Homo sapiens: one gene and its partner. The protein of the gene in region 1 interacts with the protein of each later gene in a biochemical or structural test. Each region holds a gene or a part of one and is shown on either strand. Other genes may lie near its edges.

The links.
Region 2: the proteins of FAT1 (region 1) and VASP form a complex in vitro, tested with the Homo sapiens proteins (one study listed by BioGRID).

Annotation. Positions count from the first base shown.
Region 1 is NC_000004.12:186,721,710-186,725,459, reverse strand, and holds the start of FAT1 (protocadherin Fat 1 isoform 1 precursor), read left to right. Parts: upstream 1-1,603; 5' UTR 1,604-1,796; intron 1,797-3,750.
Region 2 is NC_000019.10:45,524,410-45,527,564, reverse strand, and holds the end of VASP (vasodilator-stimulated phosphoprotein), read right to left. Parts: intron 2,996-3,155; coding exon 2,905-2,995; intron 1,620-2,904; coding exon 1,562-1,619; intron 1,426-1,561; coding exon 1,388-1,425; 3' UTR 582-1,387; downstream 1-581. UniProt on the Homo sapiens protein: Ena/VASP proteins are actin-associated proteins involved in a range of processes dependent on cytoskeleton remodeling and cell polarity such as axon guidance, lamellipodial and filopodial dynamics, platelet activation and cell migration.

The sequences.
Region 1 (3,750 bases):
ACTTATTAATTAATGGTAATCTTCTCCAGGAATTCTCTTGTGCCATTTAAAAAAAATCCCGTGATTTTACGTCAGGGAATGGTATCTTTGTACTTTTTTTACTGTTCTTCTTTTCCCCTTTTAGCATTACTCCCGCTTCCTCGCTCCCAGGAAACGGCTGGAGTTCCGGTGTGTTTGGGTTTTGCTGAGATTTACAATTCGGCAAGCGGCACAAGCCGGTTGGGCTTGGAGATCAGGTCACCCACTTTCGAGGTGTTCCATGTATGAAATTGACCTGTAAGCACTTGGAGCAATTATGGCCGGGACAAACACGTCTTTGGATGATGGAGTTTGCATTTGCTGGATGTGTGAATCTATGTGTATTCCAACTGGTGGGCAGGGAATATAGGGCTACGAATCGGCACACTCATCTTGCAGGCATTATTTTTCCTTCCCAGCCACAACCTGCTAGACACCTTTATTATTATTATTTTTTCCGGTCACCTCTAAGATGGCTTATAAGGTGACTGCGTTAACTTTGAACCCAGGAAATTCTCTTTCACACTTGACTGCCCTGCCGTTCCCCTCCCCGCCAAGCTCCCCTCACCAGTCCCAGGGAAATCGGATCTCTTTGTCTTCCCAGTGTTAAAATGCCTGAGTCCCACAAACTTTCCGAGATCAAGTCCGCCCTCTTGTCCGGGCTGCGTCCCAGCGCCTCCGGCCCTCCGGGCTTCGGCCGAGTCCGCCCTGCGCCGAGCCTGCGGCTGGAGCCCTGCCCGCACCGGGGATGGGCTCCGCGCCCGGGACGCTCAGGCTGGGCGCCCGGCGCGGGGAGTTCTCGGAGCGGGCTTCTCGGCGCTGGGGCTTCCCCTCTGCCTAGGAACTTGCAGTTGTCGGCCTGGGGTCACGCTTTGGGGCCCCTGGGGCCGACTCCCGGGCTAGGAAGCCCGCGGGACGCCGCGACTGCCTTTTGTCCCACAGGCCTGGGCGTCCGGGGTGTCAGCGGGGGAGGCCAGGCGCCCGCGGCGGGGAGGGCCTGGGGTCTAACTCGGCAGAAAAAGGTCGCGGGGGAAGCGTTTCCATTTTCTGGGGATTGAAGGAGGAAGTAGATTCCGACCTAGCTGCATTCCTTTGGAGACCTGAAGGACGACTTCAGCCCACCAAACCTTCGCGGACCCAGAGCCGCGCCATTCAAATGCAGATTCAGGGGCTCCCAGAAGGCTATGGAAAAGCTAAAGGGATGCCTCTGGGAAGCTTTCTCATTAGGCCCCAGCCTTTTTTTTTTTTTTTTTTTTTTAGCTAAGCTAACGTTTCCCTTTCTTGGCAGGGAGCTTTCCCCAATTCCTTGCACAGCGCCTGTGGCTGGCCGTAACTAACCTCGGCATCACAAGCCTCGCCCTGCCCCTCGGAGCCGCGCTAGACCCCGCTGGGCGCCTTCTCGTCTCCCAGCACGGACCTGGTGTTCGCAGGGACTGGGGCTCTTTGGGTCCGGGCGGGACTGCGTGGCCGAGCCCGCGGTCCCAGAGCCGGCAGCCGGGGAAAGTGGGCTCGAGTTTCCGCGCCCGAGAAATGAGCGCCGGCGCCGGCGGGCGGGGCCGGGGCGGAGGGATCTCCTGCGCTCGGGGAGCGTGAGGCGCCGGCGCCGAGCTGGGCGGCCGGGCGCGGGGAGAGGGCGCGGGAGCGGCTCGTGCGGCAGGTACCATGCGGACGCGCGAGCCCGGCGAGGGCCCCGGCAGGCCCGGTCCCTGCTCGGGGGCGCGCTGAGACGGCGGGTGAGCTCCACGAGAGCGCCGTCGCCACTTCGGGCCAACTTTGCGGTTAGTTCGCTGGGGCGCGGGCCGGCGGGCGGGGGCGAGAGCGTGCAGCGCGCTGCGGTGCGGACTCTGTGGGTGTCCGCCCGGTCCCCGGCTCGGGCTCCGGCGCTGCCGAAAACGGATGAGCGCGCGACTTCCCGGAGGGTGGAGTGACTCGGTCCTTCCCAGTTGGGAAATTCAGCACTGGCTAGGGGGGTCCCGGCGGCGGAGCGGGAAAAGGAGGCGACCGCGCGGGACCGATCCGGGGCCATTGCTGGGGTCCGATCCTTTCTGACACGCCGCCTTCCCTCCGGGAGCTCGCCGGGCTGCGCCGGCCTCGCGGTCTCCTGGGGCATCCCGCCGTCTGCGAAAGACCCGCTCGCTGAGCGGTGCACGCGGGAGGCCTGCGCGGGGCTGCCGGGTCCCTGGGTCTCTGGGTGTTTGCGCCCTGCAGGAGCGCTGCCCGGAGGTGCAGATGCAACCGGTGGACTGCGGAGTGAAGGGCTGCGAGGCTGCATTTCGGGGCTGAACATCTGCACAATGTGCGGTTTGTCAGTGTTTTCTGTCTTCTCTGGAGGAGGAACTTCTAAGATCTTTTTAAAAGAAAGAGTTTTTGGTCCTTCATTGCCTTTAAAAAAAAATGCTTTCTTTTAGAGAGCCAGCTTTCTGCTGTGTGTTAGATTTTTTTGTTCCCGCTGATGTGAATTGCAAGGCTTTGGAAACAAGGACGCAATTGTATGAGTTAGGAAAGTAAACTCATAAATATTTTCTATGCAGTTAAGTTTTTTTTTTTGTCTGAACTGTGGTTTCATTAAGTGGCTTTTGTTAAGCAATTCCCGGGTGCCTGATAGAGGCGATTTTTTAAAAGTGGATATTAACAGTGATTATTAGTATGAGAAAAGATTGAAAAGAAAATGACCTTCAGATATTCATTTCCTTTTCAAAAGCAGATTCTTAATGCTTCGTATATTCAGATACAGGTTTCGATAGTTTAAGAAGGTATCTGTGTGTGAGAACTAGGTAATGGTGATGTTTTTCACACTATTCTTAATGAGTTTGGTTATGCTGTCCAACACATCCAGTTGTTACAGGGACGTTTGAAAAGGTGTTTCTCCAGTTAATAGTTAATTGTGATATTTGTCTTTGTCTTTTTGTCTTAGGAAGACAGCTCTGATTCCACAGTTAGAATTATTCCTTTGTATTTAAGATGTAAAAATACTTAAAGCACTATGTAATTTTTTAAAACAACAATTGGTATAAGCCTTGAGTGATGCTAAACATGGCATTTAACAAGCTCAAGGTAAGGTTTGATTTGAATGAAGTTTGCATTTGTATAACCATTTTTTGAAAAATGAACACCTTAAATGAGCCAAATTCTTTGGCACTCTGGAAAGAAGTGTGGTTGTTAGAGGACTTTATAAAATCATTTCGGGCCACCTGTATATTCATTTGTCTCTTTTGAAGTATCCCCGTTGGGTTCTCATCATGTTAGTAGATCATTTAAATCCATGGTCCGGACAGGTGCCAACAGAAAAATGTTTAAAAATTATGGCCGGGCGTAGTGCCTCACGCCTGTAAACCCAGCCCTATGGGAGGTCGAGGCGGGCGGATCACCGGAGGTCGGGGGTCCGAGACCAACCTGACCAACATGGAGAAACCCCGTCTCTACTAAAAATACAAAATTAGCGGAGTGTGGTGGTGCATGCCTGTAATCCCAGCTACTTGGGAGGCTGAGGCAGGAGAATCGCTTCAACCCGGGAGGCGGAGGTTGTGGTAAGCCGAGATCGTGCCATTGCAATTCAGCCTGGGGAAAAAAAAGAAAAGAAAAAGAAGAGAAGAAAAATCTTTAAAAATTATGCACAAACTAATTCTGTTTTCATTCCCCTGATCATCCTCTACCTTTCCATTGCCTTTAGACTTTGCTTTGAGGTCCCTTTGAAGCAGTCGTTTCTTTGAATGTTAGAGGTGGATAGGATCT
Region 2 (3,155 bases), on another chromosome or scaffold:
TCATACCAAACGCCTGTAGTTCCAGCTACTTGGGAGGCTGAGGCAGGAGGATCCCTTGAGCCCAGGAGTTCAAGGCTGCAGTGAGCTGTGATCCTGCCACTACACTCCAGACTGGGTGAAAGAGCAAGACTCCAACTCATTAAAAAAAAAAAAAAAAAAAAAGAGGAAAGAAGCTGGGAGAGTGGTAGAGTGGGGGCAGAGAATCATCTTATGAGCCCTTTCCCAAATCAGAAACTGAGGCCTGAGGTAAGCAAATGGACTTGCCCAAGGCTACACAAAGTGAGGCTGCTTCTGGCCTCCCCTAGGGTGGTGAAGGGCAGGGTGGGATGGGGAGGAAGTGGCCTCCTAAGGGGCATGGGGAGGGAGGCTGGAGGGGGCAGAGATCATCCTGGCTGCGGGCCTGAGGATGAGTGAGCAGGCGCAATATGCAGGGTGGGAAGGAAGATGAAGGGAAGGTGGATTCCTGGGAGGAGGCAGGGGTTCTCAGCAGAGGACCAAATCTTCCTGGAGGGGCACCGGGGGCCGAGCACACCTCCATCCCCATCAGAACAGGCCTTCAAATCACTCCAGAGATCTTAGCATTTATAAAAACTGGCAGATTTATTCTGCAGGGGCCCATTTTCAAGAAGCTAAAGGTGAAGGTGGGAGGGGAGAAGTTTCCTCCCCTTCTCCTTTCTCCCTCATCTTATTTCCTCCAAGGGGTAAAAAAAATGGCCTGGACCCCAAAACCTACCCAAATAAAAAATCAAAAAACTGAGGTTCCAAAAAGTTACAGCATCTTATTTCCTCATAGAAAAGGGGAAGGAGCCAGAGGGAAGGGGAGTCCCTGGGGTGGGGGGATATCTCACCCCCAGCCCGGTGAGACATCCCCTCCCCTTAAATAGCTGCCCCAAATGGGGCAAGCCCAGGGCTATAGCATTTAAAAACTCCCACATCCCATTTTATCAAAACCAAAGAGAAAAAAAAATTTCCCTTTTCCCCCAAAACCCAAATATATATATATTTTTTTTTCTTAAAAAAACCAAAACTTTGAAGGCATTAAGCGTTAAAGTGAATCTAGAACAAGGGAATGTGAAATTCCCTCCTTCCTTCCCCCTTCCTGTGGGGTTCATTGGTGCATCCCCAGCAGAGGGACCGGCCCCAAGGGGATGGCAGAGGGGAAGGACCAAAGGGAGAAAAGGGCGGGGGCCTCCCCAGCCAATCAGCAGCCAGTGTGGGTGTGAGCAGGGAAGCCACACCCCCTTGGAGTTTTCCAAGTGGGATGGGGAGTGGGAACGATGCATTCCTGTGTAGTCTTCAGCCAATTCCAAGTCAAGTAGAGGCAGGGAAAGCAGGGTGACAGGCCGGGTGTGCGGAAAGGAGAAGCGGGTCTTCTGGGTCCCTGTGGTCAGGGAGAACCCCGCTTCCTCAGCTCCTGGACGAAGGCTGGAAGGAAACAAGGAGCAGAGGTCAGGGGCAGAGTCTCTGCCTCCTCCCTTCCAAAACAGGGCTCTTGCCCAGGGACATGATGCCTCCAAAATAAGTAAATGTTTAAGAACAAAACCAAAGCAAACCACCTCACCTTCAATGATTTCCTCTTTCACTTTCTGCAATTCCTTCTTCACCTCTTCCAGAAGCTCCTAAAATTAATGGGGTAAAACTAATCAGGAGGGGGTACCGGGACTTGCAGGAATGAATCCCCCTTCTTTTATTTTTTGAGAAGGAACCTTGCTCTGTTGCCCAGGCTAGGGTGCAATGGCATGATCACAGCTCATTGCAGCCTCAACTTCCCAGGCTCAGGTAATCCTCCTGCCTTAGCCTCCCAAGTAGCTGGGACCACAGTCACCTGCCGCCACAATCAGGTAACTTTTTCTTTTTCTTTTTTTTTTTGAAACAGAGTCTCCCTGTCACCCAGACTGCAGTGCAGTGGCCCAATCTCGGCTGACTGCAATCTCTGGCTCCCGGGTTCAAGCGATTCTCCTGCCTCAGCCGCCCAAATAACTGGATTACAGGTGCCCCCCACAAGGCCCAGCTAATTTTTGTATTTTTAGTAGAGACAGGGTTTCGCCATGTTGGCCAGGCTGGTCTCGAACTTTTGACTTCACGTGATCCGTCCCCATCAGCCTTCCAAACTGCTGGGATTATGGCTGTGAGCCACCATTCCCAGCCTAATTTTTGTATTTTTAGTAGCGATGGGTTTCACCATGTTGGCCAGGCTGGTCTTGAACCCCTGACCTCAGGTGATCCACCCACCTCGGCCTCCCAAAGTGCTGGGATTACAGGCATGAGCCACCGCACCTGGCCTTCTCAGGTAACTTTTAAAAGTTATTTTTAGAGATGGGGGTCTCCCGATGTTGCCCCAGGCTGGTCTCAAACTCCTGGCCTCAAGCAATGCTCCCACCTCAGCCTCGCAATGTGCTGAAATTACACACATGAGCCACCGTGCCCTGCCAGAGTCCCCTCTTTCTTGTTGATGGAAAAGCCAGGGGTAGTAGGTTTGAGACCTACCCCTACATCGACACCATGACATCGCTGTCAAGGTCGCAGAGTGACTGGAGGATTCTAGGGGAGAATTCTGGATCCTTGGAGCCGGAAAAGTACTGGAGAACATCCAGTACCAAGGTTGGCAAGCGCATTCCAGCCTCCTGCCAACTCCAATTGGTGATGGACAGCTGGGTCAATGTGCGGAAAGAATTCAAGGCACTCATCTGGAATGAGCGCGGTGATAGATTAATAATGTCTGTCACAGGTGCCAGAAAAGGGGGTGTGGAGTCTCGGTCATCCTTGACCCAATCCAGTTTCTCCATTTGTCAGATTGGAAACCTGAGGTTTCTGAGATGTTATCTAGGATCATACGGCATGCCAGTGGCAGGGGCCAGACCTAGATCTCTCTTGCTGTGGTCCCCAACTTCCCCCCCAAGTTACCTGTTTCACCCTCTGTAGGTCCGAGTAATCACTGGAGCTGGGCGTGCAGGGTTGGGTCTCGGAAGTGGTCACCGAAGAAGACGACTTCATCCTGGGGGAGTTGGTGTGGTTTGGGACAGCAATGAGATTAGAGAGAGGACCTGCTTCCCCGCCTCCTATTCCAGGGGTCACATTGAGCTCTGCCTTATAAATTGGGCAAGTCCAAGTATTTTTGGGGCCCCAGTTTTTTTTTTTTTTGGTTTTGGTTTGTT